Homo sapiens: one gene and its partner. The protein of the gene in region 1 purifies or fractionates together with the protein of each later gene. This does not show direct contact. Each region holds a gene or a part of one and is shown on either strand. Other genes may lie near its edges.

Region 1 (3,135 bases):
CTCACCAGCTTCCCCCAAACACAACATCGATCTTTCCCGACTTTTAATCTTGTCTAGAGTCAAAAGCTGTTCAAAAATATTCAACTCCAAGGTCAACAGTTTTGTTCTTGCCACAAAAATGTCCTTATCCTTTATCCCAGCCACAAAGAATGTGAACAATTTGACTCAAGGTTCGTGGTGGCTGGAGGGTCCCCCAGGTCCCAGGGCAGCTCCCACCTGGCGCAGGGCTCCGGCCAATGCCTGGCCTGCAGTGTGGGCGGCGGCTGCTCTCGAGGTGCACCTGTCTCATGTGGACGGATCCTGTCTGGGGCCACCAAGCTCTGCCAGCCTGAGTCACGGTCTGATGAACCCCCTCTCTGGGCTCCGCTGGGGCCTTCTGATCCCAGCCTCCTCTGCAGGGATGGGCTCCCAATCCCGCCCTCACTTGGTTCCCATGCACAGCCGAGGTCAGTGAGACCCTGGAGGCCGCGGGAGATGGGGTGGAGGGGATGGTGGGGCAGGGGGTGCTGGGGGGTTTGGGGGTGCTGTGGCCCCGGGGCAGGGGGTGCTGGGGGGTTTGGGGTGCTGTGGCCCCACCTGCACTCCCTGCCTCACTGGGACAGCACAGGAGACAGGCTTCTCCTGCAGCTCAGAGGTGGGGGCCTAGTGTAGCTGCAGGTTGTGACTGAGGAGGGCAGGGTCAGAGCATTGCCCTGGGCAGGGGTCCGTTGAGACTGGCCCCACCTTATTAGCTTGGGACCTTGGGTTACAGGGAGTCTCCTCCTGCCTCAGTTTCTACATTTCACACAGCAGCACTGCTCACAAGAGCTCCCAAGCAGAGGCAACTACTGAGTGGGGGAGGGACACAGTCCGTCCACATGGGGCCAACGGCCACAAAGAGAGGAAGGGACATGGGTGACGGTCCGTCCACGTGGGGTCACCGGCCACGGAGAGAGGAAGGGACATGGGTGACGGTCCGTCCACGTGGGGTCACCGGCCACGGAGAGAGGAAGGGACATGGGTGACGGTCCGTCCACATGGGGTCACCGGCCACGGAGAGAGGAAGGGACATGGGTGATATGGTTTTGCTGTGTCCCCACCCAAATCTCAACTTGAATTGTATTTCCCAGAATTCCTGCGCGTTGTGGGAGGGACCCAGCGGGAGGTAATTGAATCATGGTGGCTGGTCTTTCCCGTGCTATTCTCGTGATAGTGAGTAAGTCTCACGAGATCTGACTGGTTGATCAGGATTTCCGCTTTTGCTTCTTCCTCATTTTCTCTTGCTCCTGCCGTGTAAGAAGTGCCTTTTGCCTCCCACCGTGATTCTGAGGCCTCCCCAACCATGTGCAATTGTAAGTCCCGTTAAACCTCTTTTTTTCCCAGTCTCGGGTATGTCCTTATTAGCAGTGTGAAAACAGAATACTACAGTGGTCCATCCACACGCGGGTCTCACCCAGCCACAGAGAGGGAGAGGACGTGGCCCATCCACACGCGGGTCACCCGGCCACGGAGAGGAAGGAAGCTCTAACGGGTGCTGAGGCTGTAACACACAGTGCTCAGGGAAGGACACCAGACATGAAGACTGTGTTCTGTTTATATGCAGTGTCCAGAGAAGGCGTGTCCACAGACAGAAGCCGACTGGGAAAGGAGGTGCAGTCACTGCTCAGGGACACGGGTTCTTTTCGGGGAGGCAAGCGTGTTCGCAGCGTGTTCTGTATGGGGAGAGATGCAGTCACTGCTCAGGGACACGGGTTCTTTTCGGGGAGGCAAGCGTGTTTGCAGCGTGTTCTGGATGGGGAGAGGTGCAGTTACTGGTCAGGGACACGAGTTCTTTTCGGGGAGGCAAGCGTGTTTGCAGCGTGTTCTGGATGGGGAGAGGTGCAGTCACTGGTCAGGGATACGAGTTCTTTTCGGGGAGGCAAGTGTGTTCTAAGCGTGTTCTGGATGGGGAGAGGTGCAGTCACTGGTCAGGGACACGAGTTCTTGTGGGAAGAGGAGTGTCCGGGAGCCAGATGGCAGTGATGGGTGGACGGCCCCGTGGATGGACTGACCACCGACCCATGCTCTGCACTCATGAGGCGTGGCTATTGCTGTGTGAATCACATCTCCATGGAAACGGGAGTGGGAGAAACGGGCCCCAAGGATGTTGTGAAGATGGCCTTATGGGGCTGCACTGGTGACTTGGACAGTGCTGGCCACCGGCCCTGCTCAGTGAACAAGAGCCATGGTCATCACCCTCGCCACACAGAGCAGCTCCTCCTGCAGACTTGGGGACCCCGTGGCCACCAGACCCCGCGGTGGGAGCAGAGATGCCTCCGAAACTCTGGAGACCCACAGAGGCAGAAGAGGATTCCACGAGGCCGGGGCCCGTCAGCAGATCCTCAGACGGCGACACGCGCCACTTCCTTTTCTGTTTCCTAGACCTTTTAACTGATGGAATTCAGTAAGCAGAAAACGTGCTTGAAACAAGGGCACCATGGAGCGGACCCTCCCCCTCTCCCCTCGTGGAGTCCTTGACCCTGGGGCAGGTGACCCTTCTTGCTTTGCAGGCAGGGGCTGTGGCTGGAGCTTCTCCTACAAATGGGCTGTGCTGGGATTAGCCCGGCTGTACATTTGCTTTATGCTTCCGTTGGCATTTAAAAATCTGATGTTCATATTTGCCGTATTACGTGAAGTAGGACGAAACGTTCCTTCTTGCTTAGAGCAGTGTTTCCCCAGAGGTGCCCGGGCCCAGGGGACAGTGGCCAACCTCTGGAGACATTTCGTGTTGTCATGAGGCTGGGTGTCCAGGAGGGGGCGATGCTGCATCTGCTGTGCACAGGACGCGGCCACATCAAAGGACCCCACCTGCAAAACACATGCCCAACCTCCTTCCTCCTCTCCAGCCCAGAGTCAGGGCTGTCCCCCCTCCCTCCAGGGGACACATCCCCCCTCCCTCCACGGGATACATCCCCCCTCCCTCCACGGGACACATCCCTCCTCCCCCCACGGGACACATCCCCCCTCCCCCCACGGGACACATCCCCCCTCCCTCCAGGGGACACATCCCCCCTCCCTCCACGGGACACATCCCCCCTCCCTCCACGGGACACATCCCCCCTCCCTCCAGGGAACACATCCCCCCTCCCTCCAGGGGGCACATCCCCCCTCCCTCCA
Region 2 (3,500 bases), on another chromosome or scaffold:
GATCACGAGGTCAGGAGATCGAGACCACAGTGAAACCGCGTCTCTACTAAAAATACAAAAAATTAACCGGCCGTGGTGGCGGGCGCCTTTAGTCCCAGCTACTCAGGAGGCTGAGGCAGGAGAATGGCATGAACCCAGGAGGCGGAGGTTGCAGTGAGCCGAGATTGTGCCACTGCACTCCAGCCTGGGCGACAGAGCGAGACTCCGTTTCCAAAAAAAAAAAAAAGATCATTGTTTCCATCCCTGCTAGCACAACATCCAGCCTGTAGCCTGTGGATCAATGAATGAATGAATGACTCGGAAATCAAGATGACTCCTTGACATGTCATTCATTCATTTATTTATGCATGACAAGGTGTCCCACTGTCACCCAGGCTGGAGTGCAGTAGCACGATCTTGGCTCACTGCATCCTCCACCTCCCGGGTTGAAGCAATTGTCTTTCCTCAGCCTCCTGAGTAGCTGGGGCTACAGGTGCGTGCCACCATGCCCAGCTAATTTTTATATTTTTTCATAGGGGGTTTCACCATGTTCCTCAGGCTGGTCTTGAACTCCTGAGCTCAAAGCAGTCTGCCCGCCTCAGCCTCCCAAAGTGCTGGGACTACAGGCCTGAGCCACTGTGCCTGGCCAAGTCTTAGTGTTTTTGAGGCACGGTCTCACTGTGTCTCCCAGGCTGCAGTGGAGAAGCAGAATCACAGCTCACTTTAGCCTCCACCTCCCAGGCTCAAGCGATCCTCTCACCTCAGTCTCCTAAGTAGCTAGGACCACAGGTGCGCACCGCCATGACTGGCTAATTTTGTTTTTATTTTTGTAAAGATAGGGTCTCCCTGTGTTGCCCAGGCTGGTCTTGAACTCCCGGCCTCAAGCAGTCTGCCTGCGTCAGCCTCCCAAAGTGTCGGGGTTACAGGCAGGAGCCACCGCAGCCGCCCATGACTCTCATTATTGAGAAATACATTTGTAAGGCTCTAGGTGCCTGTAGGTGCCGTGGAGAGCAATTCCTCTGATGGAGCTGGGGAAATTGGGTAAATTGAAACCCCCGGAAAGGCTTTGCCGTTCTAGAGGCTGTGAAGGACACGCGTGATCCATGGGAGGAGGTAACATGTCAGGATGAGCGGAAGTTTGGAAGAAGTTGGTCCCAGGCCTGAAAGATCACTGTGAGGGTTCAGGACTTCAGTGGAGGAGGGACTGTAGAGGTTTTAGAAGCAGCAAGAGAACTAGAATGAGAAGGACTTGGAGATGTGACTGCATTGTCGCTGTCTCGCGAGAAAACTTTAACACGTGAGGAGTTGCCTCTGAAGGGTGAGCAGGGGAGTTGCTTCAGTTGCGCTCTAGTCCCAGTGAAGATTCTGTGAACCTGGGGGTAATGAGGACAAAGAACTTGGAACAGCCCGGAACCTCGGTTGATGAAGCCGCGGCCGGGTTGAGAGGACCGACTGCAGTTCTGAAAGACGTTCTGCTGTGGGTAATCAATGCTATCAGACAGCATCACGCCCCACAGAGAAATCTTTCATGAAAGGAAGAGTCCATCGCTGTGGCCAACTTTTTTGTGGTCATAGTTTAAGAAGTTGCCCCAGCCTCCAGCAGCCACCGCCCCAACGAGTCAGCCGCCGTCCACATTGAGGCAAGACCCTTCTCCGGGGAGATTAGGGCCACTCCCGGTTCCCATGATCATTACCATTGCTTAGCAGTAAAGTATTTTTATTTCTTTATTATTTATTTAAGATGGGGTCTTGCTGTATCCCCCAGGCTGGAGTGCAGTGGTGCGATCATAGCTCACTGCAGCCTCCGCCTCCTGGGCTCAAACGATCCTCCCGCCTCAGTCTCCCGAGTAGCTGGGACCACAGGCTTGCACACCACGCCCCGCTTAATTAAAGTGTGTCCTTTGATTAGACACAACGCTACTGCACACTTCCTAGACCACGGTATACTGTGAACGTAACTTGTGTGTGCACTGGGAAACCAGAACATTCGAGCGGCTGTTGCCGTGCGGAACCCAAGGCCTGTGATCCCCACAGGGTGTTTCTGGCACCGGAACGCAGGGGCCACATCCAGGGGGGCAGTGCTTGTGACGCCGGTGCCTTCGTTTCTGATGTGGCTTACTCAGCTGGGAGTTCCTGTCCTAACATTTTCGGCGATGGCTGTGCACCCACGGCCCCTCTTCACCCGCGGCCCCTACGTCCTGCCGGTTGGCAGGAAACCTCTTCCCCTGCACATCTGGGGCACAGCAGCAAACTGTGGTCCCCCTTCTTCAGTGAGGGTGGGGCTTCTGTCTGTCTGGAGCCCTAGAATGGGGCCAGGGGTGGCTGGGGCCTGGGTCAGGGAGGACCCGGCAGGATCTGTGCAGACAGGCAGGTGGCTGCGGTGGCTCCCGGTGCAGGGTTCTTGGCCTCCTGGGCGGGTACCTGGCTTGAGGGCGACGAGGTGACAGCCGCGTCCCTGGGGTTGCACCACCCGAGCGTCCAGTTAACACCACAGCTGCCACCCTTCAGTTCTGCAGGTGGGGCTCCTCCCTCCTCCCCAGGCTGCCCCCACCACCCTTCAGTTCTGCAGGTGGGGCTCCTCCTTCCTCCCTCCTCCCCAGGCTGCCCCCGACCACCCTTCAGTTCTGCAGGTGGGGCTCCTCCTTCCTCCCTCCTCCCCAGGCTGCCCCCGACCACCCTTCAGTTCTGCAGGTGGGGCTCCTCCCTCCTCCCTTCTCCCCAGGCTGCCCCCGACCACCCTTCAGTTCTGCAGGTGGGGCTCCTCCCTCCTCCCTTCTCCCCAGGCTGCCCCCGACCACCCTTCAGTTCTGCAGGTGGGGCTCCTCCCTCCTCCCCAGGCTGCCCCCGACCACCCTTCAGTTCTGCAGGTGGGGGCTCCTCCCTCCTCCCCAGGCTGCCCCCACCACCCTTCAGTTCTGCAGGTGGGGCTCCTCCCTCCTCCCTCCTCCCCAGGCTGCCCCCGACCACCCTTCAGTTCTGCAGGTGGGGCTCCTCCCCAGGCTGTCCCTGACCACCCTTCAGTTCTGCAGGTGGGGCTCCTCCCTCCTCCCTCCTCCCCAGGCTGCCCCAGACCACCCTTCAGTTCTGCAGGTGGGGCTCCTCCCTCCTCCCCAGGCTGCCCCCGACCACCCTTCAGTTCTGCAGGTGGGGGCTCCTCCCTCCTCCCCAGGCTGCCCCTGACCACCCTTCAGTTCTGCAGGTGGGGCTCCTCCCTCCTCCCTCCTCCCCAGGCTGTCCCGAGGCTCCTTGCTGGGGACCGTCCTGCCTCCCGTCGGGGCCTGCGCTGAGACTGGGCTCCATGCCAGCCGGGGCTGGCTGGCCCCCTCGCTCCAGAGAGCGACCTGCACAGAGTCCCCTCAGCCATGAGCCCCTGTCCAGACACGGCGTTTCTCTGTGGGTGGCAACAGGCTCTGGGGCCCTCAGCTCTGGGCTCGGGAGCATTTAAGGTGGTGCAGACTCAGCGAGGGGCTGTGGGCTGGGGTCCCACCATCCCGGGAGCAGGGACTGCGTGTTCCTTCTCA

Evidence for each region. Proteins that work in one complex are often made in the same cells at the same time.
Region 2: the proteins of TMEM255B (region 1) and CSNK1G2 purify together in Homo sapiens (affinity purification with mass spectrometry; one large-scale study listed by BioGRID and IntAct). This does not show direct contact.

The regions. Positions count from the first base shown.
Region 1 is NC_000013.11:113,814,361-113,817,495, forward strand, and holds the end of TMEM255B (transmembrane protein 255B), read left to right. Parts: 3' UTR 1-2,635; downstream 2,636-3,135.
Region 2 is NC_000019.10:1,965,172-1,968,671, forward strand, and holds part of CSNK1G2 (casein kinase I), read left to right. Parts: intron 1-3,500. UniProt on the Homo sapiens protein: Serine/threonine-protein kinase. Casein kinases are operationally defined by their preferential utilization of acidic proteins such as caseins as substrates. It can phosphorylate a large number of proteins. Participates in Wnt signaling.